5 separate regions of the Homo sapiens genome follow, and regions 2, 3, 4 and 5 are each linked to region 1. Evidence: fine-mapped expression QTL. A gene starts in region 1. Each other region holds a variant in brackets. All regions are shown on one strand. Distances are from middle to middle. Region 1 holds the start of HEY1 (hes related family bHLH transcription factor with YRPW motif 1). Region 2 has its middle 25 kb from the start of STMN2. Region 3 overlaps LOC101927040 (a long non-coding RNA gene). Region 4 overlaps LOC101927040 (a long non-coding RNA gene). Region 5 overlaps LOC101927040 (a long non-coding RNA gene).

Region 1 (6,198 bases):
CAAACCTATCACAAAGTGTTGGCTTATACTCACTATTTCAATTTAATGTCTTGAACAAAATTTAACAACTAGTTTTTAAAAACTGCTAATACATGACATGATGAAAAAAACATTAAAAAAGATAAAAGTAAACCAACAAACCTTTAGTCTTTAAAAAAAAAATTATCTGAAAGTGTACCTTTTTCCTTTTTACTTTTACTGACGACTTTAAGGTGATGTTGGCAACAGTCCAGCCCAGCTGGGATTTTAAACTTTCCCCTCCCTCATTCTACATCAGTTCTTTAAAAAGCTCCGATCTCCGTCCCCCAAGGTCTATAGGGCTTGCCAAGGTTTGCAGCCTGCGTGGGTGCTGAAGGGCTCAGTGCATTGGGAGACAGTAAGTGGAAGGAGCCGAAAGAGAAGGGGAAGGCCGACAGGGAGGCCACTGAGGAGAGCAGAGGCGGCGACAGTTTGGAGGCGGAGGTGACCACAGGGAGCACCGGTCCGAGGCTGCCGCTAGGGGGCGCTCGCAAAGCAGGCGCCTCCGGATGTGCCGAGCCCAGCCTGCCCTGGTGGTGCGGTTCCGTGGGTGAGGCCGTGGTGCCCGCGTTCCCGTGGCCGTTCTGGGGCAGCAACAGCGGGTGCGCGATGTGCGGGTGATGTCCGAAGACGGTCCCCCAGGGAATGTGTCCGAGGCCCGCGTGGGCGCCGCTCGCGGCTTCCCGCTGGGAAGCGTAGTTGTTGAGATGCGAAACCAGTCGAACTCGAAGCGGGTCAGAGGCATCTAGTCCTTCAATGATGCTCAGATAACGCGCAACTTCTGCCAGGCATTCCCGAAATCCCAAACTCCGATAGTCCATAGCAAGGGCGTGCGCGTCAAAGTAACCTAAGCAAAAGAACAAAAGAAAAATCTCAGGGCTTTGCCCGTTTCCCTCATTTCTTAAGTCCCAGAGACAGCCCTTCCTGGCAGATACCTGCATCCCTTAAAACACAACAGTCAGGGGTTCTTCCGAAAGTCTTTGGAATCAACAAAAATCTTTGCATTAATCAACATAAGCAGAATGTGTTTGCTAATGCAAGTTCAAAGCCCAATTAGAAGCTGCAGAGCAGAAATTGGAATTATACCCTACCAGCAGATGAAACTATGTTCATTCCTTTAATGTTTTCCCTCAACAACAACAAAAAATACATCAAGGGCAGAGAAACCACAGAGCAGTGAAATTCATTAGACACACAGATGTAAGTTATCATCGCGGAGCTTTTAGGCACTTGGACCTCAGTAAAGCATTTTCCTGCTGGAGAGACATACACACAGACCTTGGTCTCCCGTTAGGTTTCCTTTACTTAACCAGAATACATTTCTTTCCTCAAGAGGCATGTGGCAGCACCTTTTTTTTAAAATCCCGTATACCAAAAATAAGACCACATATTGTTTTTAAATGCTTTTTCTCAAAATAGCAATGGACAAATGTGAAAGCTACCTGATCTGAATCAGGGCTGTCACAACTTTTGAAGACCTCACAAATAATAGGTATTTTTCCAAAAGATGCACTAGCTCAATCCGCAGAGAGCTGGGGTGGTGAATTCACTGGAGAAGATTCTATGTGCATTCGAAAATGTACTGACAGGGAACTGCACACACCACACACCGTTCTCTCCCCACCCCCAAAGAAAAATCAGGCAGCTACTGCACCAATCCTGGCCTTCAGCCGCTGCTCACTCTTTGCCAACCATTCAGAGCCCCCACTAGGTCTAGGAGATGTACCTTTCCCTCCTGCCGTATGCAGCATTTTCAGGTGATCCACGGTCATCTGCAGGATCTCGGCTTTTTCTAGCTTAGCAGATCCCTAAAGATGAGAATGGCAAAAGATTGATTTGGCACAAGTTCCTTTGGGGAACAATTTAAAATATGCAAACATATATACAAAGATACATGCTTTGTAAATCGTAAAGCATGGACTAAAGCAAAATCAGTTGTCTTCACAAAATACGCTGGTATCTGTGTACGAATTCATCTAGGCACAAGCAACACAGCTATTTTCCAAGGCGGATGAGATTAATGAGGGGAAGATTCAGAAGGTGCAGATAGCTATGCTGAGAGCTTTACCTACTTGCTCCATTACCTGCTTCTCAAAAGCACTGGGTACCAGCCTTCTCAGCTCAGACAAACTGTTATTGATCCGGTCTCGTCGGCGCTTCTCAATTATCTGCAGAAGGCAAGCAAAACAAAGGAAGGCATTACCATTACGACTGTAAATTTCAAAGACAAAAAAAAAGGTGGTTATTTCCGTTAATCAATAACAAAAATAAAAGGAGAGTGTAAAGAGACTCACTCCTCTCCGTCTTTTTCTGGCCAAAATCTGGGAAGATGTAGTTGGGGACATGGAACCTAGAGCCGAACTCAAGTTTCTGAAAAGAGAAAAAGAACAAACAAAAACTGAAATCGCCGTTAAACGAGGAGAGGTGATCTGAGAGGTCGCCCCCACACCCTCCCCGCACTCAGACTTTTTTTGCCACTTGGGCTGGAAGGCACCTAGGGGTTCCCTGGCCGCAGGCTGCCGCCAGCCTGCGACGCGCGGAGGTCAGCGCAGGGCACCGGCGCGCCAAGGGTCCTAGCCCGCTGTCACCGCGGCAGGCCTGCGCTCGCCTCCCGCTCTGGCTCGGCTCCGCTCCGCCGCCGCCAGCTCACCCATTCTCGTCCGCACTCTCCTTCTCCACCTCGATGGTCTCGTCCAGCTCGCTGTCCGAGGAGCTGTACTCGGGGTGAGCTCGCTTCATGCTGGCTCCCTGGGGGTTCCTGGGGAGGGTCGGCGCGGCGGGCAGGGAGGAGTTAACTACAGCGGCGCCTCTCCGCTCTCGGCTGCTTGCGTTCCGCACACACTGATCCCGCTCACGCTTTGCCTCTGGTTAAAACTCAACCATCCTTTCCCACGCTGAGCCCCTTCCCAGGGCCCTGGGGAGGGCGGGGGAGTGGGGAAGGCGGGCGAGGGGGCGGAGAGGCGGGGCGGCAACTCCAGGGCAACAGCCGCCCCCCGGCCAATCCGGTTTCTCGCGCCGCTGATTGGCAGCCGCTCCGGGGAGGGGCGGGAGCGAGGCCGAGGGCTCTAGCGGACCGCGCCCCCGCCCTCCGCGCCCGCCCCTGCCCGGCGGCGGTGCGTCGGCTCCGCGGGGGCTCTGTCCAGCCTGCACTCAGGGGAAGGAGGAGGCGCGGGCGGCGGGGAGGCGCGGGAGGCCGGGCCGGGACACAAGCCCGCCGGCGGCCGCGGCTCCTCCCCGCCCCGCGCGCCCCGATTGGCCTGGCCGCGCGCCAGGGCCGAGCCTGCAGCGCCTCCGGTGAGCCGCACGCGCCGCGGGCCGTGGGAAAGTGCCGGCGCCGCGGCCGCCAGCCAATCCGGGCGGCCGGCGACGGCGACGGCGGCGGCCGCGCTGGCGGCGGCGGCGGCGGCGCTGGGCGTCCGCATGAATGGAGAAGAATGGGCAGGCGGGGAGCCGGGCCGCGCGAGGGCGCGCCGGCGGGGGCTGGGCGGCCGCCGGCCGGGCCCCCAGTGTGAACCTGTAATCGGAGCCTGGGCGCCGGCCGGCCTCGGAAGCCGCCGCCTAGCGCCACCGTAAATCTCGCCCGCGTGGCCGCCAGTGCCCGGCGGCTGGAGGCGCGCGCTGTTAGTGGGGCCGTGCCGGGTGCACCTGGCCGGGCTGCGCGCCGGCGGCTCCGCGGAACCCGCAGGGAGCCGGGAGAGGGGGCGCCGGGCGCGTCCACAGTGGCCACCAGCCCAGGGGCCGGTCACATGGAGGAGCAAGCTGTGGGCTCAGGGGACGCTCTTTTTGATTTCTGGGACCGAGGCCGCACATGCAGCCAGACTCGTTTCCGCAGGGGCTTCCCAGCCGCGGAATGGAATGAATACCCCTGTGCATCTCATTTCCGGGGAAGGGGAGCACTTGTTTTTTCGGCCGCCTTGGGGAAAAAAAAACCCAACGGTCCCTGGGAATAATCATTATGCTGGGATTTTTTTGTTGTTCCCCCGCTGCCCCCCCCCCCGCCCCCTCCCCCCGGCGGCCAGATCCTCTCAGCGGGCGACAGGGTGGCGGTGCTGGCGTTTGCGTCTGAGGCCGGCCTTGCTGAGGGAATGCACGTCTCTGGCCCCAGACACACACCTCTGGCTTCGGTGGCTTGGCGTGGCGTGTACTGGGTGCCACGTGAAGTCCCCCCCGAGTCCACTAAGAAGACAGATTTTTTAAAAAATACAGTTGTAAATCTCGAAACTGATTTCTGATTCCAGAAACAGAATGGTTGTTTTAAATTTGAAAATCCGGTCTTCTGTCCCTTACAAAGGTACACAGCAATTCGCATTCATCTCAGATCCACTCTGAAGCTTGTAGTCCTGTCTGTGAGGGAAAGCTTAATATCCATCGGTGAGAATAACAAAAGGCGTTTTCTCTTTGCAAAAAGCTTCCTGGTTTCTAGACTTCCTTATTGATCTCAATGCTATTTTTTTTTTGAGATGGTGTCTCACTCTGTCGCCCAGGCTGGAGTGCAGTGGCGCGATCTCGGCTCACTGCAACCTCCGCCTCCCGGGTTGAAGCAATTCTCCTGCCTCGGCCTCCCCAGAAGCTGGGATTACAGACGCGCGCCACCATGCTCAGCTAATTGTTTTTGGTATTTTTAGTAGAAACGAGGTTTCACCATGTTGGCCAGGCTTGTCTCAAACTCCTGACCAAAGGTGATCCGCCTGCCTTGGCCTCCCAAAGTACTGGGATTACAGGCCTAAGCCACCGCGCTCGGCCTCAATGCCATCTTAACACATCCTGGATGCCAAGCACTCTGAGTGGCCGGCCTGGGCCTAATCCATAGTTCCTCTCTGGGCACCCCCATCCCTCCACCACCGCCCCCAACGGGAAATACAACCTCCTGGCTCCCACTGAAGCTTATTCCACTTCACATCACCTCCAGCCCTGAGCCTTTCCATGCAGCCCCTCTGCTTCCCTGTCTAGGCTGGGCCCTTCCATCAGCCAGCCTGGGTTTGTTGCTGCTGGCACCCCAGACCTCTGGCTTCCTGAAACTCCACCGCATGCTGCCTGTTAGTTGTCAGTCCGAGGTCAATCCCACCAGCCGACTTTCTCTCTGGAAGTGCAAATTTTAAGGCTCCTTCCTGGCCCTCCCAGTCTTCAGTCCAGGGCATCCATCACTACTTCCTGCCTCTTCCCTCCCAGAAACTGATGGTCCAGGCATAGGAAACCATCCCACCTGCTCCCCTCTGCCTTCCAGAAGTCCCTCTGACCTTCCATTTCTTTCCCCAAAGTGACAGGCCACCCTTCCCCAGAACCAACGTGTCTACTTCCCCTCTGGCTCTATAGATTTTCCCAGCCTCTGGCACCTACAATGAGTCAGCCTTTCCTGCTTTGGCTCATTTCTGCTGCTGTGGAGAGGCGTGGACAAGCTGCAGATGTTGAGTGAGACGAGACCGGGTGGGGTTAGGGATGCTTAACTCTACATTGGCATCCAAATGAAATATTGCTCACATGTTCATGATTACTTTTATGTCAAAAAGGAGGTTCTCTACGGCCAGGCGCAGTGGCTCACACCTGTAATCCTAACACTTTGAGAGGCTGAGGCAGGAGGATTGCTTGAGTCCAGGAGCTCCAGATCAGCCTGGGCAACATAGCAAGATCCCCATTTCTTAAAAAAGAAAATTAAAAATTAGCCAGGCATGGCATGCACCTGTAGTCCTAGCTTCGTAGAAAGCTGAGGTGGGAGGTTTGCGTGAGGCCAGGAGTGCCAGACCAGACTGGGCAACACGGCAAGATCCCCATCTCTAGAAAAAATTTAAAAATGAACCGGGCATGGTGGCCTGTGTCCTAGCTACTCTGGGGGCCGAGGCTTGAGCCCAGGAGGTCAACGCTACAATGAGCTATGATCATTGCACAGCACTCCAGCCTGGGTAACAGAATGAGACTCTGTCTCTAAAAAAATTACAAATGAGGTTGTCTTGCTTCTTAAGTTTGACTGATTTTTCAATGCTTCCAATAAATACGTATTCTTCTATGTGCCATGTGCTGTGCTAGGGCCTGAAAACACAAAGGTGACCCAAAAGTCATCCATCTTGCACTCCTAGAACTCACATCCTAGGGAGAAGACAGAGAATACACAGTAAAGTAGTTATGGATGCTCCAGTGCTTGGAAGCACTTGTTGGTAAGGAAAAACGAGGGGGTGAGGATTCTTT
Region 2 (6,198 bases), 180 kb before region 1:
TCTCAGATATTTCTTCATAGCAGTGTGAAAACAGACTAATACAGTATATTGGTACCAGGAGTGGGACGCTCCTATAAGGATACCCAAAAATGCAGAAGCAACTTTGGAACTGGGTAACAGACAGAGGTTGGAAAAGTTTGGAGGGCTCAGAAGAAGACAAGAAAATATGGGAAAGTTGGAACTTCCTGGAAACTTGTTGAATGGTTTTGACCAAGACACTGATAGTTATATGGGCAATGAAGTCCAGGCTGAGGTAGTCTCAGATGGAGATGATGAACTTCTTGGGAACTGGAGTAAAAGTGACTCTTGCTATGCTTTAGCAAAGAGACTGGCAGCATTTTGCCCCTGCCTTAGCAATCTGTGGAACTTTGAACTTGAGAGAGATGATTTAGGGTATCTGGCAGAAGAAATTTCTAAGCAGCAAAGCATTCAAGAAGAAGAACAGAACAGAAAAGTTTGAAAAATTTTGCAACCTGACAATACAATAGAAAAGAAAAATCCATTTTTTGGGTAGAAATTCAAGCCCACTGCAGAAATTTGCATAAGTAATGAGAAACCAAATGTTAATCAACAGGACAATGGAGAAAATGTCTCCAGGGCATGTCAGAGAACATCACAGCAGCCTGGAGGCCTGGAGGGAAGGCTAGAAAAATGGAAGGAGGCCTAGGAAGAAAAAATGGTTTCCTAGGCCAGGCCCAGTTCCCACCTGCTCTGTGCAGCCTTGGAACATGGTGCCCTGCATCCTAGCTGCTTCAGCTCCAGCTCTGGCTAAATGGGGCCAATGTACAACTGGAGCCATCACTTCAGGGGGTGCAGGCCCCAAGCCTTGGGAGCTTACATGTGGTGTTGAGCCTGGATGTCCAGGCAAAAGTTTGCTGCCGGGATGAAGCCCTCATAGAGAACCTCTGCTAGGGCAGTGCAGAAGGAAAATGTGGGGTTGGAGTCCCCACACAGATTCCCCATTGGGGCATTGTCTAGTGGAGCTGTGAGAATATGGCCACCATCATCCAGATCCCAGAATGGTAGGTCCACTTACGGCTTGCATCGTGAACCTGAAAAAGCTGCAGACACTCAATGCCAGCCCATGGAAGCAGCTGGGAGGGGTCCTGGACCCTGCAAAGCCACAGGGGTGGAGCTGTCCAAGGTTGTGGGAGTCCTGAATGTGAGACATGGAATCAAAGGAGATCATTTAGGAATTTTAAGGTTTAATGAGGGCCCTATTGGATTCCAGACTTGATGGGACCTGTAGCCCCTTCATTTTGTCCAATTTATCCGATTTGGAATGGGTGTATTTACCCAATGCCTGTACTTCCATCGTATCTAGGAAGTAACTAACTTGCTTTTGATTTTACAGGCTAAAAGGCAGAAGGGACTTGTCTCAGATAAGACTTCGGACTTTGAGGTTGGGGCTAATACTGGAATGTTAAGACTTTGGGGGACTGTTGGAAGGGCATGATTGTGTTTTGAAATGTGAGGACATGAGATTTGGGAGGGACCAAAAGTGGAGTGATATGATTTGGTTCTGTGTTCCCACCCAAATCTCACCTTGAATTGTAATAATCCCCACATATCAAGGGCAGGGAGCAGGTGGAGGTAATTGAATCATGGGTGCAGTTTCCTCTATGCTGTTCTTGTGATAATAAGTGAGTCTTATGAGATCTAATGGTTTTATAAGCATCTGGCATTTCCCCTGCTTGCACTCACTTCATCCTGCTGCCCTGTGAAAAAAAGGTGCCTTCTTCTCCTTCCCCTTCCACCTGATTGTAAGTTTCCTGAGGCTTCCCTAGCAATGTGAAAATGTGAGTCAATTAAACCTCTTTCCTTTATAATTACCTAGTCTCTGGCATTTCTTCATAGCAGTGTGAGAACAGACTAATACACATACAGACCTGAGAATTCATATGAACACTCCATTCAAACTCCAAAAAAACAGCTAAAAGTCGTATTTTTTTCTTAATTAAATCTTTAAGTCCATTTGACCAAACCTAGGGGTCAGAAATGGATCAAAATGATATATGAATTGTCAAATAACCACTCCGACAAATGATCTCCTTACAGGATTTAGAAATGACATTGATTGAAAAATGGCATGCTATTTATCACATAAGGCTGTTAGCTAAGACATCTTTTTAACACAGCTTTCTAACACCTCTCTCCCCAGGGTAGCATTGCAACATACACCACTAGCCTAGGATTGAGATAGTTCTGAAGGAGAAATACGTTTGTCTGCCACTCTCCCTGAAAAGCTTCTGTGTTGAGGACACAAGTTCGTATGTCTTTGTCCCAGGAATCCGTCCTCTAGATCATTTCTTCAGCTTTTGACATCTGAGGAAAAGTTCTTGTCACTCAAACACCAAGCAGGAAAGAACCAAAACTGATGTTTAATTAACCTTCTTAGTGGAAAATTAAAACGACTCTTTTCCCAGTAATAAGAGTCTTTTTAAACCCTGAGAGAGGGAGCAGTGGAGTCAATTAAAATCAAAAACCTTAGGCAGAAGCAAGAATACCTAACCCCAGGGTTGAAAGTGTTCCATCTAATCTGGCATTGTCAATGCTGGAGGTGGTGATTCACCAAAGGGAGGAAACCTCTTCCTAAGTGGTTGAACTTTTAGGCACTAAATATAAAGAGAATTCAAAGTTTCTCTAATTTCACACAGTACCCTGGCCTTAAATGTGAAGGGCAGAATTCCTTCTTCACCAGAATTTTAAGAATTTATTATCCTTGTGCCCTGCCTTCTGCACAAGTAATTTTACCCCTCCATATTTGTATGTTGTGCTTAATCTACTCAGCTTGATTTGCTAGTCTTTTAGGTCTATCTTGAAAATAAGAATTAGGACAACGCTAATAATATCAAAGTGTAGACATAAAAGAAGCACAATCATTTTGTTTTACCTGCATAGTTTCTTCCATCTTGTTTTTGCAGAATCCATATCCATATATGTATCTTTGCAGATTCTGTGCATAAACCAATAATAACCTGTATAT[A/T]GAAAAATACATTGAAATAATCTCATTGTATATCTCTTTCTCTCATTAAGCTATAAGATCCTAATTACAGAGTCTGTGTCTTATACATGTTTGTAGCATGACATATGATAATATCTGGAAATTTTACTTCTGTTTTTAATATATTTGCATTTAAATAAGAGCTACCATGAAATATTTATAGAAAATTCAAGGATGAGTTTGGGTTGACACTATTTAAAACGAAGGCAGTTCGTGTCTGTCAAATATTAAAAACAACATCTAGCTCTGATAACCGAAATGTTTGTATGAACTTTTGAACTTGAAAAGTACATCATTTTCTAGGACAGAAGTGGCATTCTAAATCAGTGAGGGAAACGTAGGCACAGTGGCATGCACCTGTAGTCCCAGCTACTCAGGAGGCTGAGGTAGGAGGATTCCTTCAGCCCAAGAATTTAAGGCCAGCCTGGGCAACTCAGTGAAACCCCATCTCAAAACAAAACAAAACAAAAATCAGTGAGTAAAAAATGGATGCTTTAAAATGATGCTTGAGAAAAAAAAGATAAAACTAAATCTTCATTTCAAACTGAAAACAAATAGATCAAAGATCAAAAATGTAAAAATTTTTAAAACCATACAATAGAAAAATAAATGAGAATAAATTTTTTTTATAACCTGAGAGTTGGAAATATATTCCTAGTTCAAAATTTAGAAGCAATAAAAGAAGTAAAGTCTGACTACACTAAATAAGAAATTAAAAATTGGTATAAAAAAAGATTATAAACAAAGACAAAGGACAAACTAAGAAAAAATACATGCAATTTATGTCACAGACAAAGGGATATTTCTATGGTACATAGAAACATGGGTAAAAGATGTGGACAAACAGAACACAGAAGAAATGGAACACATGAGAAGATAATCAACCTAACTCACAAATTAAAATTTAATTAAGAGATCACTTCGCACCTATAAGAATTGCAAAAATCCAAAAATTAGACAATATATTATTTAATTGTCATGGAGCAACCACATGAGTTGGAAATGCAAAAGTGTAATATAAATAGAGGGGGATTTGACAATATCTAGAAAAATTACTTATACATTCTCTTTTTGACTCAGCAATTTCATTTCTAGGAATCTGCCCAAAAAAAAGTAAAACTATGAAGTGTTTTATGCACAAGATTATTCACCATAGAATAATTTTAATACTTAACTGGAAATAATTCAAATGTCCATTAATAGAGACTGGCTAAATAAATTATGGTAAACTAATACTATATAGCCATAAAAAGGAATAAAGAAGAATGCTATACACTGATATGAAATATTCTCTAGGATATACTATTAAATGAAAAAATGCAGAATAGCTTATATAATGTGCTATCTTTATATAAGAAAAAGAATTTGCATTTATTTAGCAAATTACATTTGTAAAGGGAATTTTTTTACTAACCAACAACTGGTTATAAAAAATGAGTAGCTATAAAAAGAGAAAAGAAAGAGAATACAAGGAATTGCAATTGAACCAAAAGCCCTAAAATATGAAAACAAAGCAAAAACAAGCTAATTGTTTATCAAATTAGAGATATAAACACAAAAAAATTCTTTTTTTTATTATACTTTAAGTTTTAGGGTACATGTGCACATTGTGCAGGTTAGTTACATATGTATACATGTGCCATTCTCACTCATAGGTGGGAATTGAACAATGAGATCACATGGACACAGGAAGGGGAATATCACACTCTGGGGACTGTGGTGGGGTGGGGGGAGGGGGGAGGGATAGCACTGGGAGATATACCTAATGATAGATGACGAGTTAGTGGGTGCAGTGCACCAGCATGGCACAAAAAAATTCTTTACATAGTATTTCTATTTTTTATATTTAGTGGAATATAATATATTTCATAGAGTTTGCAAGAAATCTTAACAGCAGCCTAATCATTAATCATAACATTGTTAATTTTATTTTGATATTCTATACATATTAGAATAATGCAAATATATAATTAAATTTAATGTTAAGTAAAATTTGATTTCACCTAAAATTTAATCATTCCATTAATAATTTAATATTTGATTTCACCTAAATTTAATATTGTATTAAAATTAATATTTTAATATCATTACATAAATTAATATTACAAGTAAAACTTAATATTATTAAGCAATAAAATATCCATGTAAGAGAAAAGCAATAAAAGTATATAATCAAAAAGTTGAATTAATCATATCACCAGACCAGCATTATCCTAATACCAAAGCCAGAGAAAGACAGAAAAGAAAATTACAGACCAATATTCCTGATGATAAGCATAAATGCAAACATACTCAACAAAATACTAGCAAACCAAATTCAACAGCCCATAAAAGGATTATACACTCTGACCAAGTGGGACTTATTTCTGGGATGCAAGGATGGTACATGGTACAATGCATGCAAATCAATATATGTGATACACTATATTAATAGGATGAAGGACAAAAATCATATGATTATCTCAACAGACGCAGGAAAAGCATTTGACAAAACTCAACAGCCTTTCATGATGCAAACTGTCAACAAATTAGATATAGAAGGAGTGTTCCTGCATATATTAAAGCTACATATGACAAGCTCATAGCTATCATCAGAATCAGTGGCACAAAGTGGGAAGGTTTTCCTCTAATATCAGGAACAAGACAAGAATACTCACTCTCACCACTTCTATTTAACATAGTAGTGGAAGTCTTAGCCAGAATAAGGAAGCAAGAAAAAGATAAAATGCATCCAAATTGAAAGGAAATAAATAAAATTGTCTCTGTTTGGAAATGACATTATTTTATATATAGAAAATCCTAAAGACTTCACTGAAAAATTATTGGAACTAATAAACTAATTTTGTAAAGTTTTAATATACAAAATCAACACACAAAAAGTAGTAACATTTCTGTATACTAACAATCAACTATCCAAAAAAGAAATCAATAAAACAATTCAGTTTATAATAGCATCAAAAATAAAATAAAATACTTAGAAATGAATTTAACCAAGTAGATGAAACATCTATACACTGAAAACTACAAAACATTGATGAGAGAAATTGAAGAAGTAACAAAGGGAAAGTTATTTTGTGTTCATGATTAGAAGATTTAATATTGTTAAAATGTCTATACTGTAATTTTAATGTACAGATTCAATGCACTCCCTATCAAAAATTTTAATGGCATTTTTCACAGAAATAGAAAAAAAA
Region 3 (6,198 bases), 61 kb after region 1:
CTACAAATTCTGGGACAGAGGTATTAACAGAATAGATCCATCCAAGGGAGAGCCATACGCTAGCCGCAGCATAGCCATGTCAAGCAGCGACCCTGTGGGCATACCCTGCCTGCTCGTGTGTGTCCTCTCCCAGTTACTGTTTACGTTGAGTTACATGAGTCAAGCAGCCAGGCTCCATGTGGCAAAGTATACAGTAGACAGCGCATTGTATTTTGCAGAGCCTGTGATTGAGGGAAACCAATGCTCCCTCTTAAAATTACCTTTGCAAAATATTTAATATAAAACAGTACTTCTTAAGTCTGGAGGAGTCTTGGAAACTTGAAAATCAGCAGATCTGTCCAACAGAATACACAGGGCTCTCTTCCTGGGGCTGGAGGAAATATACACAATTTTTACATATAAATTTTTCATCCCATTTCAGAGGACTCAGACTCCCTGCAGGTTTTTTTTTTTTTTTTTTTTTTTGAGACCAAGTTTCACTCTTGTTGCCCAGGCTGGAGTGCAGTGGTGCGATCTTGGCTCACTGCAACCTCCACCTCCTGGGTTCAAGCGATTCTCCTGCCTCAGCCTTCCAGAGTAGCTGGGATTACAGGCATGTGCCACCATGCCCGGGTACTTTTGTATTTTTAGTAGAGATAGGGTTTCTCCATGTTGGTCAGGCTGGTCTCGAACTCCTGACCTCAGATGATCCGCCTGCCTCGTCCTCCTGAAGTGCTGGGATTACAGGGATGAGCCACCGCGCCCGGCCCTCCCTGCAGTTTTTCCACACACTCTTTTGGGTATCCACCTAATCTAGGGGAATCTAAAACAGCACCTAAATTCTCATCTCATCCAGATTCTAGTGGTCTCTTTTTTTCAGTCATGAGAAATCCAATGAAGTGGTGAGCTCCTAAGAATTCAAACATTGAGTCAGATCCCACAGTGTGAACTCTGTCTCTGCTCTGGGTGTCTCTGTCTGTTACGGGGGGGTGATCATTCATCCTACCAGGAATATCCTGGCAGGTTTCCTCAGGCCCAGGCATTGTACAAAACTCCAGAAGCTGCTCAGTCTGAGAAGCGGAGCGCTATGCAGAAAGCCCCCGGCATCGTCACAACATGGGACCTTTAGTGGGCAGTTGTTTGAGGTCATTTTCTCATCAGTAGCAGCAGGCTCAAAATGGATGTGCAATGCAAACCAGGAGACTAGGGAGCACCGAGCAGCCTCAGGGGTTGTTTTCTGCCTGGTTCAAGAGAAACTGCCGTAGAAATTTTTGCCGCCAGCCTGTTGTTGAGTGACAGGAAGAGAAAAAAGGATCATTTGAAGGCTCCCTGATTCAAATGGCGTATACAGAATGCCAGGCCCTGGCTGCCCTGGAGAAAGCCACTCTGGTGCCAGCTTAGGGAACAAATGTGTTCCCACTGTCTCCTGGAAAGGCTTTCCCCACCCCTGCTGAGGGGGTGGATTTCAAAGCAGCTGACTTCTTGCCCTTTTTAATAGGACTGCAAGTGTTCCCATTTTAATTCTAAAACTTTCTCCCAATTTTCCACTCCTCCAAGGCCTCCCAAGAAAAGCTGGTATTCTGGGTCACTGAAATGGCGTCAGGTTATTAAGCAGAGAAAGGGGATTAGAGGAACAGTTCCTAGCAGCAGCAGCGAACACAGTTACGGTATTGAGAGCTTGCGTTGCATGTTAATAAAATGCTATAAAACATCAAACCCTAAAGGTAGCAGTGAAAGCCACGTAAGTCCTTTCCGGAGTTTGCCTTCTGCAGCTGTGGATCTAAAAGTTCCCTGCCTTTCCTGTACTTTCATAATCACGCTTTTCCTCCTTTAGAGAGACACGCAGCCTCACTCCCAAACCATGGTGTGTTTTAAATGCTGACCACCCCATCTTTCCCTGGCACCATGGAGCGTTTCAGTCTAAAACCCTAGGGTCTGCGAATTCTGGCCAGTGCGCTGGGGAGAGGTAGTAGAGTAATTAAGTTAGCTGTTAGCTGCTGTGAGCGGACTTCGGTATTTCATCGCAGCTGCCTGCCTCTGTCTCCCCAGCCGCCCTCCCACATCTTCCTATGAGACCGGCTGTGTGTGTGAAGGAGGTGCTGTTTCCCACAGCTCTGATCTAATTCAGCTGAAATTCAATCTCCGTGTGACCAACCTCAGCCAGCGCTCTCCCACCCACCGCCGGCCTCCCCTCTGCAGGCTGTGTGTGCTGCCCATTTACACCATCAATCCCACAGCCTCCCCTCCACCAGCCCCTGGGTATAGACTTACGGTGTCAGCGGGCCAGCCTTGGGGGCTCGCCTGCTGCCCGGACGCTCACCCCT[C/T]ATCCCCAGTACTCCGAGGTGAGACACTCTATACCTGCCACTCGGTGGCCTGAATGGGGCCTGTGAGTCATCGCAGGAGAAAGGGCAGTGGGGCCAGCTGAGGCTGAGAACCCAAAACAGATGTCAGAGACATCAGGCCACGTTTTCCATGGATCTTCAGTGCCCAGAAAGATTTATGACCTCTTTTAACCCCCTTTTAACGTGGGTTGAACTGGGCTTGTCTTATAGGGGGGAAACAAGTCTGGCAGTCATTCAGAAAGTCACCAGAGCGACAGGGCCTGCCCTGGGTCTGTGGACCCTTGCTTCCTTTCTTTGTCATCCCTCTCTTAAGCTCCATCCCTTAGCCTCTGTGTTTGGTGGGGACATTCCATCACAGACTCATCAGAGCTCTCCATCCCTTGACAGCCCAAAGCTGCTTGTGGCTTTGACCCTAAATGGTATTCAATTTGGGTTTGCATCTTCATACTGAACAAGGAAATAATAAGTATCTTTTAGAAGAGCAGAGATTGCAGAAGGCCAGCACTGGCCAGTGATGCAGGGCCCTGGCTTTTTTTTTTTTTTTTTTTTTTCTGGTCTAATTGTTGCCTAATCATGTTATCCTGGATCAGGCGCACTTTCTTTTGACTAAGAAAGCTTTGAACTTTGCTTTGCACTTCCTGCAAGAGGAGGATTTCTACCTCGGGGCAGAGAGGCACAGGAAGGCAGAGGTTTGCGGGTACCTTTTACAAGCCCTATGAAGCAAAAGGGAAGGGGTTTACAAAGGCATCATAATTAGAAATGATGTGTCAGGGCAGGCAGGCACCACCAGAATGTGACCCTGCCGGTCTCCTCCCAGGCTGCTGCAGGAACACGGGAAATTCAGCGTGGCTTCAGCACGGGCACTCAAGCCATTTTCCAATGCAAAGGATCCCAGTCTTCCAACCTTCCATTAGTTTTACTGCACAGATTGATAAGTGACAGGCAGGGTCACACCTTCATGCTTATTTTTTTTTAAGAGAATTATAATTTGCATGAAGAGATTCCTTTTTGCTAACAATCCACCCGCTCGCTTATCTTGATCTACAGATAAAAACAGGACAGTGGAGCTGGAAAGTGTTTCCCGCACCTCCCTCAGACTCCCAGACACTCAATTTGCATTCAGTCTCAGAGAGAGTTTAGAGCCTGCTGTGTCTCCTTTTTTTGGACAGTGGGTAGTTATGACCGGAATTAAAAGGAGAAAAGTCTCCAGCACTTAAAAAAATCAACCAACTTTTTTTATGAACTTCTGCTAACAGTTAGGCTGTGTCACGGAGGGAGGTGTCCTGGGAGGGAACCTCACCCCTCCCTAGAGAAGAGGAAGCTTCCCGCAGCCAACCTCAGAAATAATCGTCTCCCTGAGTCCTGAGAAAACTGCCCCAAATGTTAACACATCAATCTTAAGGAAACGAGCCTGGCTTTTACCGACTTAATTTCATATAATTATTTCAGAGTTTAAGTCTTTACAAGAAAGAGGGAGTGGAGGGAAAGGATCAGAAAATTGAAGGGGATGAACAGAAGAGGAATGAGATTCCTTTGTTTTGAAGATTCCCATTTCTCTCCCAGTGTGCAGGGCATCTTTATCTGTGCTTTCGTCTCTCAGGAGCAAATGCACAGCACACTCAACAGCATGTGGAGAAGCTTGGAAGGCGCTGATTTCGGCTCAAGTCCGTTTTTAAAGGACACTTTAATAAAGCATCCTCTTGTGTCTTGGATCTTAGAACACCAAATGTACAGTGAAATGAGGTCAGAAGACCTGTGTGCCAGTCCTGACTCCTGACCACTAAGTTATGATGTAGTTGGCACAAGTCATTAAGCTTCGGGGACTTTATTACATCTCTAAAATGGAGGTAATGAGACCTCCCCTGCCCCCCTCTGGGGGGTTATATATAGGAAAATAGGAAAACACTTTGAAAAGTTAAAAATGCTGCTATACAGTCAAAAGTTATTATTCTTACAATAATAAAGTTCATTATGAGTATTCTGTAAGTACATTTTTAAATTTAATTTTTTTACATAGAAACAGGTTCTCACTATGTTGCCCAAGCTGGTCTCAACCTCCTGAGCTCAAGCGATCCTCCTGCCTTGGCCTCCCAAATAGCTGGGATTACAGGCATGATCCATGATGCCCAGCCTGTAAGCAGTTTATTATCAGTATTCACATAAGAGCCAGCAGCATAGGATTTGTTAAGTAAGGAAAAAGCTCGGACACCATCTAGTCCAATCAGTTTTAAATGCATCCATTTAAAATGTAAATGACAAAGCCTCATCCTCCAGAAATATTGATTCCATAGGTATAGATTAGCCCAGAAATCTGGATTTTAGATCACCACCTTGGGATATTCAGAGATAGAATCCAACAACCTGACTTTGAGCAACGTTGTTTTGCAAAACGAGGACATTTCTCATTCTCCTACTCCCTGGCCATATCCTTCCTCCCACTGGGGCTGGGTGTGAGAATAGAGCACATTACTTTCACATCTCTTCATTAATATTTCAGAATCTACAATGTGAAGGACTGGGAAGAAACAAAGCAGAATCGGGGATTATGTTGATGGGTTTGGTTTCCCTTTAATGATGAGAAAAAATGCATGTCTGCTCTGAGCAGATGATAAATTGATCCAGAAAATGTTGCACAAGTGTTCTTTGCTAAGCTTCAGGGTCAAAGTCAACAATATAAAAGAAAATATACCTCCGTTTAGTTGAAAAGGACTTACGTTCAAGGCATTGCACAACAGGTCTGGTGTGGGTTACACTCTGTCAAATGGCCCTGTTCATTTATTCAGCTTTCCACAGATCTTTGCCAAAGAGGACAATGAGAGAAAGAGACAGATTTAGCTGTTGTGGTTGCAGTTTGTTTTTGCACCTGGTGGGTTTTTTTTTTAAATGACAATAGTTTGAGAATATCACGACAACATTTTTAAAGATAATGAAATCATTTGTATGTGAAGTTGGGATAATGAAATGACAAGCCTCTCATAAAAGGAATCTCCTTTTAGTAACCATTGCCTATACTTGCATTAAGTGAAAAAAAAAAAAAAAATGAACCGAGGAAGAACTTTCTAGAAAGATAGATAGCTCCTAGAAATCTGGGAGCTTTTCATCATTATTAAACTCATTTGTCTTGCAACTTTCTATTCCTAAAATGAGCAAAAAATTTAACAAAAGCAGTCTCTGGAAAACCAAAACAGAGAACTCATAACATATTCCATTTACTCATAGGAAACTCTCAGGTACCTCCTCAAACCTCTCTACACACAGTTCTAATGCACATCTGCATGCACACACGTGTAAGTGTGTGTCTATATTGGTCTTCTATGCTCACAGTAAACACTGAACATCAGAAAATTAGGGTAGAAGAATTTCTGGAAATAGGTGCATTGATAACCAGAGTGATTGGTCAATGGACTGATGAAAAGCAGGGAGACGAGAGTATATTTAAAAGTTTTCAAAATAACTTCAGAATCTGAAAATTTGGGACCCTTTATGTGCCCTATTGCATTGCAGCAGAGTAACAAAATCTTGTTCACTGTCATGATCCCAAGGCATCAAGAAAAAAATTAAATTTCATCCATTTTCTCTGTTTAAGAAGGTACTAAACAATGTATTTTGGAAAGATTTTCATCAAAAATGTTTAAAATTAAAAAGTCCATGCTGAAAGAGACAAATCCTTATGTTTCCAGAACTCTCATTTACTCAAAAATCTTTTTTCCCAAAGTTTCTGAATAAGCAAAGTTTGTCTAAGGAGCAAAGATTGGGAGAGAGGAGGAGTGGGAGGAGGAACAGCTGTTCTGAATTAAGAAGCATGTTAATGACAGCACAGGAGTCAGAAAGATGCTCGGGTTCGCCTGCTGGTCTAAGAGGCAATGTATTAAACTGT
Region 4 (6,198 bases), 54 kb after region 1:
GGAGTGTTTCTCTAATAACACAAAGATGAGCTTCTAGATAGCCCACCAGATAGCCAGCCGTCTTCCGCCCAGCGTCTCCCATCATAAATCTTCATTCTTACTCAGGTTTTCTGTAGATTTTTAAGGCTAGAGCTCATTTCCCTGGAGAGACAGGCCTAAGGAAAGATCTGGAATTCCTCCAGTTAAAAAAAAAAACACCATTCTGCTTAATCAACATTTACTCCATCAGAATCAATATCCTGCAGAGGGTGGTTTACATTGTTCTCAAGTCTGTTTGCAGGTGGCTGAGCAAAGATACAGTTCCTGACCTGGATTTTCTGAAAAGGAAAAGAAAATATTCCTCAGAATAGAAAAAAAAAAAAAAAAAACCCAACCGAACTCCACTTTTTACACATAAGCTTCCTTTTGTGAGATATTCTGCCTAGGGTTGCACTCCTAACAAATTTCAGTAAGCTGATCTAGTTCAAGAACATCTTTTTTCCTAGAATTACCTGTTATTTTTCACTAAAAGGGCTCAATCATTTACCAAGCATTTGTTAAGTTATTGGTCCTCTTGGAATCTTAATTTCTCTATCCCTGATAATAGTACCTGACTTGTAGTTTCTAAATGAAATCGTATGTGTAAAATTACCTAGCCTGTGTTGGACATTCAAGAATAAGTTTCTCACTTTTCTTGATTTATCCATTGAGTGGATAAGAGGAGAATGGGTTTTGGAACTTGAACTAGGTTCAACTTCTTGCTCCTTTACTTTTCACAGGCTGCCTCTAAGGCAAAACCCTTAGCCTAGTATGTTCCCTGAACTCCAGTCTCCTCATCTGTAAAAGTAGGATAGTAATAGTTTTCTTCATTTCAGAGAGGGCTAAAGAGAACCAAATGAACAAATATAAACTTTGTAGGAGGCATTTGAAATTGTAAAGCACATAAAACTTGTTAGTTATAATCATTAACACTCTTCACAATGGAATAAAATGCACCAAATACTATTATACTTAACCACAAATATACTTAAGAAATCAAATACCATTATACTTAACCACAAATATACTTAAGAAATTAAAAATCAATTGTTTCTTAATTTATAGAAACCAATTATGATGCATCTTGTTCTAGTTTTGCTAGATTCCTTAAGATTTTGACTCTTTTGGAGGAAGGCTTTTGTAGAGGGGCTGCACCACATGAAATGTTCAAAACACATACTCTTTGAGCTACAAGGAAGAACCCCAGAAAATAAAGGTCTCTTGAAGTCAAATATATGGATACTCAAATAATTTAAGAAACTCCGAGTAGACTATTTGTGTTCATGGTGCTCATCTTTCCCTGTTTGAGCTCCCCTTGCTTCCTGAGCAGGATCACGCGCCCTGGGACCCAGTGTAGGTGGAACAGCTGGGGATCCTCCCAGCCTCCCGATGTCACAGCTTATCAGTGTTGACGGACAGAGCACACAAGGCCTTTCCTGCCTTGCTGACCAAACAAAAGACACACTTCTCTGTTTCCACCATGCTCTTTTCTTCTTGAAAAGGAAAGAGAAACTTTGTTTATGACACTGAAATATATAGGAAGCAATCGATGCATTAATGTCACTGGGCAAATTCCATCACTGGATGTCAGTGTGACCTAATTCCATTACCTACCTAGTTCTTGGGAACTCCAAAGTCCAAGGCAGGCAACTGTTGATCATCTGCAGAAGAAACGCCATAGATCTTATGAAAATCATAGACACTCAAGACCCTCGTTTTTGTTTATTTTAACTGGAAGGGTAGGAAGCTGGAACCATCTGTGAATTAGAGAATGTACATATTAGATAAAGCAACTACACATGCTACAAATGGAACACACGCATACACACACACACACACCACAATCCATCGGTTGTAAATTTGAAAGTAATAAGTTAATCTTATGTAAATTTTGGTTTGGGGTTGACCATTTCACAGATTTCCAAATATATATATGTGACAAGGTTTTAGTGGAATCTCGTTTTTCTTAGTTTACATCTCAAAAGTAAAGCTAAGCATAACCCTGAAGAAGTCTGAATTCACTTCCATATAATTAATAGATAAAAATCAGTGAATTCATTTGTTGTTTCTTCCATAAATATTCAGTGAGTGCTTACTGTGTACCAGGCACTGGGCTTGGTACTGAATTTACATTGATGAATAAAACCAATACGGTTCCTACCCTCTATGTTGGCTTTCTGTATTAAACAGTGTGTGCAGCTTCATTCCCTGTGGTCTAAGGAAGGAGAGAATGGCACGAGAAAACTGTCTCCACAGTCATGGTAACCTCTAACCTGAGCCAATGGGTAGGAAACAGTCGCCTTTGTCAGTTGGCAAGGCAAACCTGAGGCCATCAGGGCATTCTGGCATAGCCACGAATAGCACACGCTCTGGAGTCAATCTGTCTGGGTTGAATCCGGACTTCTCCACTCTCTAGCTGTGTGCTCTTGGGCAAAATACTTGATCTCCCTGTGAATCTGAAAAACAGTAGTAATATTTATATACACCTCATAAGGCTGTTGCCATGATTAACTAAGTGAAAACACATAAATCCATTAGAACAGTGCCTGGAAAATAGCAGGTGTTCAATAAATGTTAGCAATTGTTATTCTTATCTGACCTTATCTCCCATCATAGCTCTGCACACAGCCTGGAGTCCAAGCAGGGTTACTTCCCTTCTTGGCCTCTGCCACAATTTCCCCTGCCTACTTCTCCTCTCTACCCCGACACCCATGCTTTCACACATGGTGTGAGAGCCTGGACAGCTTTACCATTTCTTTTCTTCCTAGCAAACTTTTCTTGTATTCTTAAAGGCTCAGCTCAGGCTGGGTGCAGTGGCTAACGCCTGTAATCCCAACACTTTAGGAAGCCGAGGTGGGTGGATCATTTGAGGTCAGGAGTTCAAGACCAGGCTGGCCAACATGGTGAACCCTGTCTCTACCAAAAATACAAAAATTAGCTGGGCGGTAGTGGCGCATGACTGTAATCCCAATTATTCAGGAGGCTGAGGAGGCAGAGGTTGGGGTGAGCCGAGATGGCACCACTATACCCCAGTCTGGGCAACAGAGTGAGAATCTGTCTCAAAAAAAAAAAAAAAAAAAAGAGTTTAAAGGCTCAGCTCAAGCTCCCTTCCTCTAGGAAAATCTCCTTGTCCCTGACTGCCAACAGCCAGGTGTCCCTCCACTCTGCTCTTCCAAAAGCTGTGCACAGCTCTAACCCTCGATTGCACACTGGACTCTAAGGGCTTACTTGTGTGTTTCCTCTCACCGGATGGGGGCTGCTATAAGGCCATAGGAGGGGCTCCATCAATGTTTGTTGAATGAATGGATGAATGAGTCAGTGGAAGGAAGGAAAGAAGGGAGGGAGTGTCCCTGGAACAATCTAATTGGGATACTGAATTGTAATGTGTGGAGCAGGCAGTGAAGAACTCTGAGCCCAGTGATTATTTCCTCTTCCCAAGGCTACCGCTCTCTGCTATTGGCCTAAAGACATAAGGGCAGACAGAGATTCAGCTAGAAACATGGAGCAGTTAACTTATTTATGACTTTA[C/A]AACCCATGAGATCTGACCACACCAGAGGCCTGCAAGCACCCTTAAGATAGTATCGGCAGGCCAGGCACAGTGGCTTACATCTGTAATCTCAACACTTAGGGAGGCTGAGGCTGCAGTGAGCTATGACTGTGCCACTACACTCCAGTCTAGGCAATAAAGTAAGACCCTGTCTCAAGAAAAAAAAAAAAAAAGATAGCATACGTACCAAACCTCTCTTTAAGCATGTGAATACCTGCATTTCTCAAGAGGTATGTTTATCCATAGTTTTAAGAATATCGAGTCTAGAAAGTCCATAGCGTCCCTTGGTAGTATTTGCTTCAGGATACTACTCAGCAGAAATGACCTTTCTTAAGCTGCAAATCAAGTCCATGATTACTGTCCTCAGAATTGGTTCATTCTTTCAATCTCTGGTTCACCAAAAGCATTACATTTTGATGAACTATTTGCATTTCCAGCCAAAAAAATGAATGTTAACTTCCCAATACCAAAGACCCCAGGCACATTAACGTTTACCAAACACACATGCACTGAGGGGGCTGGGGTAGGAGGGGGATGTTATGTTTGGATATCTTTTGGATCACAGTGCTGAAAAAAATCACAGACAGACTCATTCATTGAGATCTCTGAAAGGGGTAGGTGTAATGTTCATCGGGTAAAACTTTGAACTAGTAAGAGCTTTTAATTTCCCCAATCTGAATAGGAACAATTAAACATTAGAAAAACAAACTATAGTTTTTCAAGTTTCAAAAACAATATCTCCATATCCTTGTCTTATTTTCGCTCTCATCTTTCTTAGTCTTCTGCATAAGACCTACTTTGGGTGTATATTGAGCAATCCCCATATCTCCATGTCTGGTTGCCAGGGTGAGCCACTTCCATTTTAAGAAATAAGGCTTTCTGATAGCTGTCCTCAAAATAGGTTCATATTTTTATGCACTAATTTATTAATTATTTATCAGCCTAAGACAAATATTCCATGCACAAAGGGGATAAAATAGGGAGCAAAATCTGCCCTCTGCCCTGGGAAAGTTTTGGCTAGTTTGTGAGACTACTTGAGGGGGATGATTTGCATGTGTGTACCTAACTTTAACTGACAAGTGTATTTTGAAAATATTCCACAAGAATTGAATATTTTATAAAATTTAATTTTTTACCAAATGACATAGTCATATCCCCTGACATACTATCTGGATACAATAGGCACTTGGTCAAACTTCATTCCTTTTTTTTTCTACCTTTGAAAATCAAATTGTGTTTAAGATGCATTTAGGGTCTTGATATTTCTGGTAAAGCATCAAATCCCACTGCACTGAGGAGCTGACTAATGGAGAATTTAAGAGCATAGTCTTTGGAGGTAGACTGATCTGGCTTTCAGTGCTGGTTCTCTCTGGCACTTGGTAGAAAAGTAATCCTCAGGAAGGAGCTTAAGCTCTCTAAACCTTAAGTTCCTCATCTGAAAAATGGGGGAAATAGTACCCATTTCACTGTGTTGTCAGAAGAATTGCTCGAGATAAAGTATATAAATCTCTGCTCATGTGGGTCCTGCATCAGTGGTAGCTACGCTACTTTTTTTCTTTTCTTTTCCTTTTTTTTTTTGAGACAAGGTCTCACTCTGTCATCTAGACTAGAGTGCAGTGGCACGATCAGAGCTCACTGCAGCTTCAGCCTCCTTAGGCTCAAGTGATCCTCCCATCTTAGCCTCCTGAGTAGCTGGGACTATAGGTGCACACCACCATGCCTGGCTAATTTTTGTTTTGTTTTGTTTTTTGTAGAGACAGGGTTTTACCATGTTGCCCAGGCTGGTCTTGAACTCCTGGCCTCAAGCAATCAGCCACCTCCATCTCCCATGGTGCTGGGATTACAGGTGTGAGCCACCGTGCCCAGCCAGTAGCTACTATTTATTTAATTTTTTTTTTTTTTTTTTTGTGTGTGTGTGTGTGATAGTGTCTCGATCTGTCACCCAGGCTGGAGTGCAGTGACGCAATCTCAGCTCACTGCAAGCTCCGCCTCCCGGATTCACGCCATTATCCTGCCTCAGCCTCCCGAGTAGCTGGGACTACAGGCGCCCGCCACCACGCCCGGCTAATTTTTTTTGTATTTTTAGTAGCGTCGGGGTTTCACCGTGTTAGCCAGGATGGTCTTGATCTCCTGACCTCGTGATCTGCCCACCTTGGCCTCCCAAAGTGCTGGGATTACAGGTGTAAGCCACCACGCCGACCACCAGTAGCTACTATTTAATGTAAATAATCACCACACCCAACTTCCCAGTTCATCTGCTTTGGGAAATCAACTCATCAACACTGGATTTTCTTTTCTTTTCTTTTTTTGAGATGGAGTTTCCGCTCTTGTTGCCCAGGCTAGAATGCAATGGCGTAATCTTGGCTCACTGCAACCTCTGTCTCCTGGGTTGAAGCAATTCTCATGCCTCAGCCTCCCAAGTAGCTGGGATTACAGGTGTGTGCCACCACACCCAGCAAATTTTGTATTTTTAGTAGAGACAGGGTTTCACCATGTTAGCCAGGCTGGTCTTGAACTCCTGACCTTGTGATCCACCTGCCTTGGCCTCCCAAAGTGCTGGGATTACAGGCATGAGCCACCGTGCCTGGTCTGATTTTTGTATTTTTTTGTGGAGACAGGATTTTGCCATGTTG
Region 5 (6,198 bases), 71 kb after region 1:
CAAAAAAAAATAAATGAATAAATAAAAATAAATGAAAAGCTAGTTCTTTGAAATGATCAATTAAATTGAAGAACCTTTCATGAAACTAAACAGGGAAAAGAGATGACAAAAATTACCAATGTCAAGAATGAAAGTATGAGCAGACTCTACAGACATTAAAAGATAATCATGGAATATTATGAACAATATTATGCCTATAAATTTCACAGCTTCAGTGAAATAGACAAAGTCCTTGAAAGACACAAACTATCACAGCTCACTGAAGAAGAAATAGTTAATGTAAAACATTCTATATCTATTAAAGAAATGGAATTAATATTTACAAATTTTCCCCAAAGTAAAACCCCAGGTCGAGATGGCTCCATTAGTAATTCTACCAAATATCTAAGAAAGAAATTATAACCGTTGTATACAAACAATGAACTTTTTAGAAAATAAAAAAGGAGATAACATTTACAACTATTTTATGAGTCCAGAATTACCCTGACACTGAAATAAGACAGATATCACACACACAAAGTGTTACAGATTAATATTCTCATGAGCATAGACACAAATACCTGTAACAAAATATTAGCAAATGGAATCCAGCAATGTATAAAGAGGATAATGCATCATGACCAAGTGGGATTTTTCTTAGGAATGCAAGGTTGTTTTGACATTTGAAAATCAGTCAATATAATTTACTATATTAACAAATCAAAAAAGAAAAATGACAATCATCCCTTGACAAAATTCCACACTTATTCCTGATTAAAAAAAGAAAATCGCAAGAAACTAAGAATAGAAAGGACATTCCTCAACCTGATGAAAGATGTCTACAAAAAAATCTAGAGCTAACGATATATTTAATGGCGAAAGACTGAATGTGTTTCTCCTAAGGTTTAGAACAATGGAAGGATGTCTTTTTTCACCACTTCTAGTCAATATTGTACTGTAGGTTTTAGCCAATGCAATAAGACAAAAGCAAAAAAAATGAGAGCCATGCAGACTGTAAAGGAAGAAGTAAAACTTGTTATTTGCACATGACATGATTGTGTTGTCTAGATTCCCAAGGACTCTACAAAAATGTTATAAAATAAATAATAAAAGAGCTGATAACTGAGTATAGTAAGATAATATATTAAAATCAATTGCATATTTTTATACACTAGCAAAAAAAATTGGCATAATCCTTGAAATAATAAATTGATAAGGCTGGACACAGGGGCTTATGCCTGTAGTCCCAACACTAGGAGTCCAAGGCAGGAGGATCATTTGAGAATTTGAGACCAGCCCAGAAAACATAATGAGACCCCATCTGGATGACTAGATGATTGATAGATAGATAGATAGATAGATAGATAGATAGATAGATAGATAGATAAAGCTGGACTTCATTAAAATTAAAAGCCTCTTCTCTGAAAGGTACTGTCAAGAAAATGAGAAGACAAGCCACAGACTAGGAGAAAATATTTATGAAACACTAATAAAACACTGTTATCTAAAACATACAAAGAACTCTTAAAATTCAATGATTTTAAAAACCTGATTTAAAATAGACAAAATACCTGGACACCTCACCAAAGAAGATATAAACAGGTGGCAAATAAGCATATGAAAAAAATGCACAACATCCTATATCATTAGGAAATTACAAATTAAAACAACAGGATACCATCACACACTTATTAGAATGGCCAAAATCCAAAACATTGACGACATCAAATGCTGGTGAGGACGTGGAGCAACAGGAACTCTCATTCACTGTTGGTAGGAATACAAAATGGTACAGCTAATTTAAAAGATAGTTTGGCAGTTTCTTACAAAACTTACAAAATCTTACCATATGATTTTGGCAATTGTGCTTCCAAATGAGTTGAAAACCTATGTCTAAGCCAAAACTTACATATGAATGTTTATAACAGATTTATTTATAATTGCCCAAACTTGAAAGTAACCAAGATGTTCTTCAGTAGGTAAGTGGGTGGACTGTGGTATATTCTGACCATGAAGTATTATGAAATACTAAAAAGAAATGAGCTATTAAACCATGAAAAGATATGGAGGAAACTTAAATGCATGTTACCAAGTGAAAGCCAGTCAAAAATGCTACAAGTTGTATGATTCTGACTATAAGATATTCTGGAAAAAGCAAAACTATGGAGACAGTAAAACAATCAGTGGTTGCCAGGAATTAGGGAGGAGGGAAGGATGAATGGGCAGGACACAGAGGATCTTTAGGGCAGTGAAACTGTTTTGTATAATTCCATAGTGGTGAATACATATCATTATACATGTGTCAAAACCCACAGAATGTACAACACCAAGAGTGAATCCTAATAAACTATGGATTTTGTGTGGTGGTAATGTGTCACTGTAGGCTCATTGATTTTATCATTACCATTCTGGTGTGGGAATTTGAAAGTAGTGTGGCCGTGTGTATGTGGGAGCAGGGGATGTATAAGAAATCTCTGTACGTTCTGCTTAATTTTGCTGTCAATGTAAAACTGTGCTAAAACATAATGTCTATTAAAAAATCACAAAGTGAAAATGTTTTCTTACCATTTATAATTGTGTAAAAATGAAATATTTAGGGATAAATATAATAAGTGCAATATCTGTATTCCGAAAACTATAAAACATGCCCAAGAGAAAGTAAAGGCCTGGTACACCATGGCTCACGCCTGTAAGTCCAGCACTTTGGGAGGCTGAGGCAG[G/A]CAGACCACTTGAAGTTGGGAGTTCGAGACCAGCCTGACCAACATGATGAAACCCCATCTCTACTAAAAATACAAAATTTAGCCAGGTATGGTGGCACATGCCTGTACTCCCAGCTACTCGTGGGGCTGAGGCAGGAGAATCGCTTGAACCTGGGAGGCGGAGGTTGCAGTGAGCTGAGATTGTGCCACTGCACTCCAGCCTGGGTGACAGAGTGAGATTCCATCTCAAAAAAAAAAAAAAAAAAGAGAAAGTAAAGAGCTAAATTAATCAAGGTATATCCCCTGTTTATTAACTGAATGATCAGTATTATTAAAGCATCAATTCTCCCCTAATGATCTACAGGTTCAGATCAGTTACTCCAGGTAAAATATTGGCAGGTTTTTGGTAAAAACTGACAAATAGATTCTAAATTTATATGGAAATGGAAAGGTCCTAGGATGGCCAAAACAATATTTAAAAAGAAGAGCAAAGTTAGCGGACTTATACTACTTGATTTCAAGACTTATCATAAATCTACAGTAATCAAGACAGTATGGTGCTGGTGTAAGAACAGATATATAGATGCTTGGAAAAGAAAGAAAACCCAGAAACAGACTTACACATGTATGGGTAATTAATTATTGACAAAGTATAAGAATAATTCAATGGGAATAAAAGTAGACTTTTCAACAAATGGTGCAAAAACAACTGTATATACATATGAGAAAGAATGAACCTCAATCCAAAATTCCTGCCATACACAAAAAATTAACTAGAAATCAATCATAATCATAGATCAAAATATAAAGTCTAAAACTATAAAATGTCTAGGAGAAAACCTTCATAACCTTGGGATAGGCAAAGATTTCTGAGGACACAAAAAGCACCATAAAAAATGATACAATTTTCTTCACTAAGATTCAAAATGTTTGCTCTTCAAAAGACACCAACAAGAAAATGAATTGACAGGCCAAAGACCAGAAGGAAATATTTGCAATGCATGTATCTAACAAAGGACTGCTATTCAGAACATATAAACACAACTTAATAATAAACAGGCAAAAAATGGGCAAAAGATTTGTACAGAAACTTCACAAAAGAAAATAAACAAATGGCCAATGAGTATATAAAAAGATGCTCAATATTCTTAGTCATCAGACAATGGAAATTAAAACCACAATGAGAAACCACCACACACCTATTAGAATCGCTAAAAATTTTAAAGTTTTATATAACCAAGTGTTGGTGAGGATATAGAGCAACTAGAACAGTCATGCATCACTACTGGGAATGTAAAATAGCATAACCACTTTGAAAAACAGGTTGGCAATTTCTTACACAGTTAAACATACAGCTACCATACAACCCAGCAATTATACGCCTGGATATTTTCCACCCACAGTGAAATATATGTTACACAAATTATTTTACCCAAATGTTCATTTGTTAATAATAGCTAAAAACTGGAGACAAGCCAAACATCTACCTTCAGAATAATAAGCAAGTTGTGCTACATTCATGCAATAGACTGCTATTCATCAATGAGAAGAATATCTACAGATACATGTCAGAACATTGTCATCTCAAAAGCATCATATTAAGTGAACAAATTCACACAAAAACATTATATATATTATATGTATAAAATTCTAGAAAAGGCAAAACTACTTCATTGTTATAGAAAGCAGTTCAAGGGTTGCTTGGGGCTGGGGTTGGCAGGTAGGGGCACACAGGAGTCTTTTAGGGTGATGAAAGTGTTGTGTGTATTAATTATGATGGTAGTTAAACTGATGTATACAAAACATATCACACTAAGCACCTGGAATAAGTGCATTTTATTGGATACAAATTATTACTCAATAAAGTTTTTTGTAAAATTAATTTGGTAGAGCTAAAATAGAAAGTATTTATGGACAAAAATGGCTTGGAATAAGACTATACAAGGTAGCAGGAGTCAGCCTATGAGGGATTTTCATCCCACGGGCATTGTATATTTTGTTTAAAATACATTTTTAAAAATATATATTCCGAAAAATGGCTTGGGCTATTTATGAAAGACAATTTGGTAATGAGTAAGGAATCTTTTTCTGACCATAACCCAGAATAGGAATAACATTCTATGTCATGACCCAGTGCACAAATACACACGTGTATAACAGTACTAACCCTTTCCTACATGCAATGGATATGCATATAAATAGGCATAGGAATAGAAATATTTTCTGTTCTATTCTTTTTTAAATGCCGGTGTCATACTTTAAATTAATTTCATGACCCATTAATCGGTTGTGACCTTCAGCTTGTAAAACACTATGTTAAAAACCTACCTGACATGAATAAATTTTAGTTAAGCAATTCAATATTAATTTCTAGATAAGATCAAGCTTCAAAACAGAGGCGTTCTAGAAGGAAGAGACTGGGGGAAAAAATGACAGTTAAGAGGATTTGGGACATAAACATTGCTATAGACCAAAATTCAAGTGTTGAAACCTAATCACCAATGTGATGATATTTGGAGCTGGGATTTTGGGGAGATGATGAGTTCATGAGGGTGGAGCCCTCACAAATAGAATTAGTGCCCTTATAAAAGACTCCAGGGAACTCCCTCATTCTTTTGCCATGTGAGGACACAGTGAGAAGATGCCATCTATGAACCAGAAAGAGGGCTCTCACCAGACACTGAATCTGCCAGCACCTTGATCTTGAATTTTCTAACCTATAGAACTGTGAGAAATAAATTTCTGTCATTTATAAGCCACGCAGGGTATGGTAATTTCTTATAGTAGCTCAAATGCACTAAGACAAACTTGTAGGGATGGTCCTGGTTTCTTGCTTCCAGCTGTATAGAGGAAGATGACTCAGAATCAATAGGCCTTGAGAGTCAGACAGACCTAGGTTCACATTTGGTTACAGCAATGACTGTGTGATTTTAAGCAAGTAATTTGACCTCTCTGAGTCTCCATTTCCTTGTTTGTAAAATGGAGTTAGTAATAGTAAATATTTATCTCAGAGGATTGTGTGAGGATTAAGCAAGACAAAAGGTAGACACTCAGGGCCAAGATGGCTGGCTAGAACCAGCTACAGAGAGGCTCTCATGGAGAGGCTTTCATGGAGAGGAACGAAAGGGGTGAGTAAATACGGCACCTTCAATGGAAATATCCAGGTACTTGGATTGGGATTAATCAGGGAAACAGCTCAACCCATGTAGAACTGAGAAAAGCAGGGCAGGGCAATAGCTCATCTGGGAGTGACACAGAGCCAAGGGAACCTCCCATTGCCTAGGGAAGTGGTAAGGGGATGTGCAACCCTGGTAAACCATGCTTCTTCCATGGATCTTTGCAACCCTCAGGACAGGAGATCCCCTCATGAGCCCATTCCACCAGGGCCTTTGGTCTGACACACACAGCTACATGGAGCAGCTGCTCAGGCATGCACAGAGACCCAGGAGCTTTACATACTCTGGCTCTGGGCTCCCCAGCAAAGGGGACTGAAACTTAGGCAAGGCAGGAGGTTGGACCT

What was found. PIP is the estimated chance that this variant, and not a neighbour inherited with it, causes the effect.
Region 2: its variant is the best candidate, but not a certain one, in a credible set for the expression of HEY1 in whole blood (INTERVAL, PIP 0.66).
Region 3: its variant is the best candidate, but not a certain one, in a credible set for the expression of HEY1 in whole blood (GTEx, PIP 0.65).
Region 4: its variant is the best candidate, but not a certain one, in a credible set for the expression of HEY1 in whole blood (INTERVAL, PIP 0.66).
Region 5: its variant is the best candidate, but not a certain one, in a credible set for the expression of HEY1 in whole blood (TOPMed, PIP 0.86).

Annotation. Positions count from the first base shown.
Region 1 is chr8:79,764,907-79,771,104 of GRCh38, forward strand. It overlaps HEY1 (hes related family bHLH transcription factor with YRPW motif 1), which reads right to left and starts at 2,861. Exons shown (of 5, transcript NM_012258.4): 1 at 2,669-2,861; 2 at 2,313-2,388; 3 at 2,103-2,186; 4 at 1,745-1,826; 5 at 1-865. The coding sequence starts at 2,757. The coding sequence ends at 282. LINC01607 (long intergenic non-protein coding RNA 1607) reads left to right here and starts at 3,236. Exons shown (of 4, transcript NR_125410.1): 1 at 3,236-3,312. LOC101927040 (a long non-coding RNA gene) reads right to left here. Exons shown (of 6, transcript NR_110954.1): 6 at 4,466-6,099. RefSeq lists enhancers at 558-797, 2,384-2,433 and silencers at 2,884-3,363, 3,404-3,763, 3,864-4,033.
Region 2 is chr8:79,583,032-79,589,229 of GRCh38, forward strand. No RefSeq gene overlaps it. Among named protein-coding and RNA genes, the nearest start is that of STMN2, 25 kb to the right of the region's middle. The variant A/T (reference allele first, on the strand shown) is at 2,987.
Region 3 is chr8:79,825,466-79,831,663 of GRCh38, forward strand. All of the region lies in intron 2 of LOC101927040 (a long non-coding RNA gene), which reads right to left. Among named protein-coding and RNA genes, the nearest start is that of LINC01607, 60 kb to the left of the region's middle. The variant C/T (reference allele first, on the strand shown) is at 2,304.
Region 4 is chr8:79,818,837-79,825,034 of GRCh38, forward strand. It overlaps LOC101927040 (a long non-coding RNA gene), which reads right to left. Exons shown (of 6, transcript NR_110954.1): 3 at 1,633-1,679. Among named protein-coding and RNA genes, the nearest start is that of LINC01607, 54 kb to the left of the region's middle. The variant C/A (reference allele first, on the strand shown) is at 3,547.
Region 5 is chr8:79,836,197-79,842,394 of GRCh38, forward strand. The region is part of intron 2 of LOC101927040 (a long non-coding RNA gene); the gene reads right to left. Among named protein-coding and RNA genes, the nearest start is that of LINC01607, 71 kb to the left of the region's middle. The variant G/A (reference allele first, on the strand shown) is at 2,700.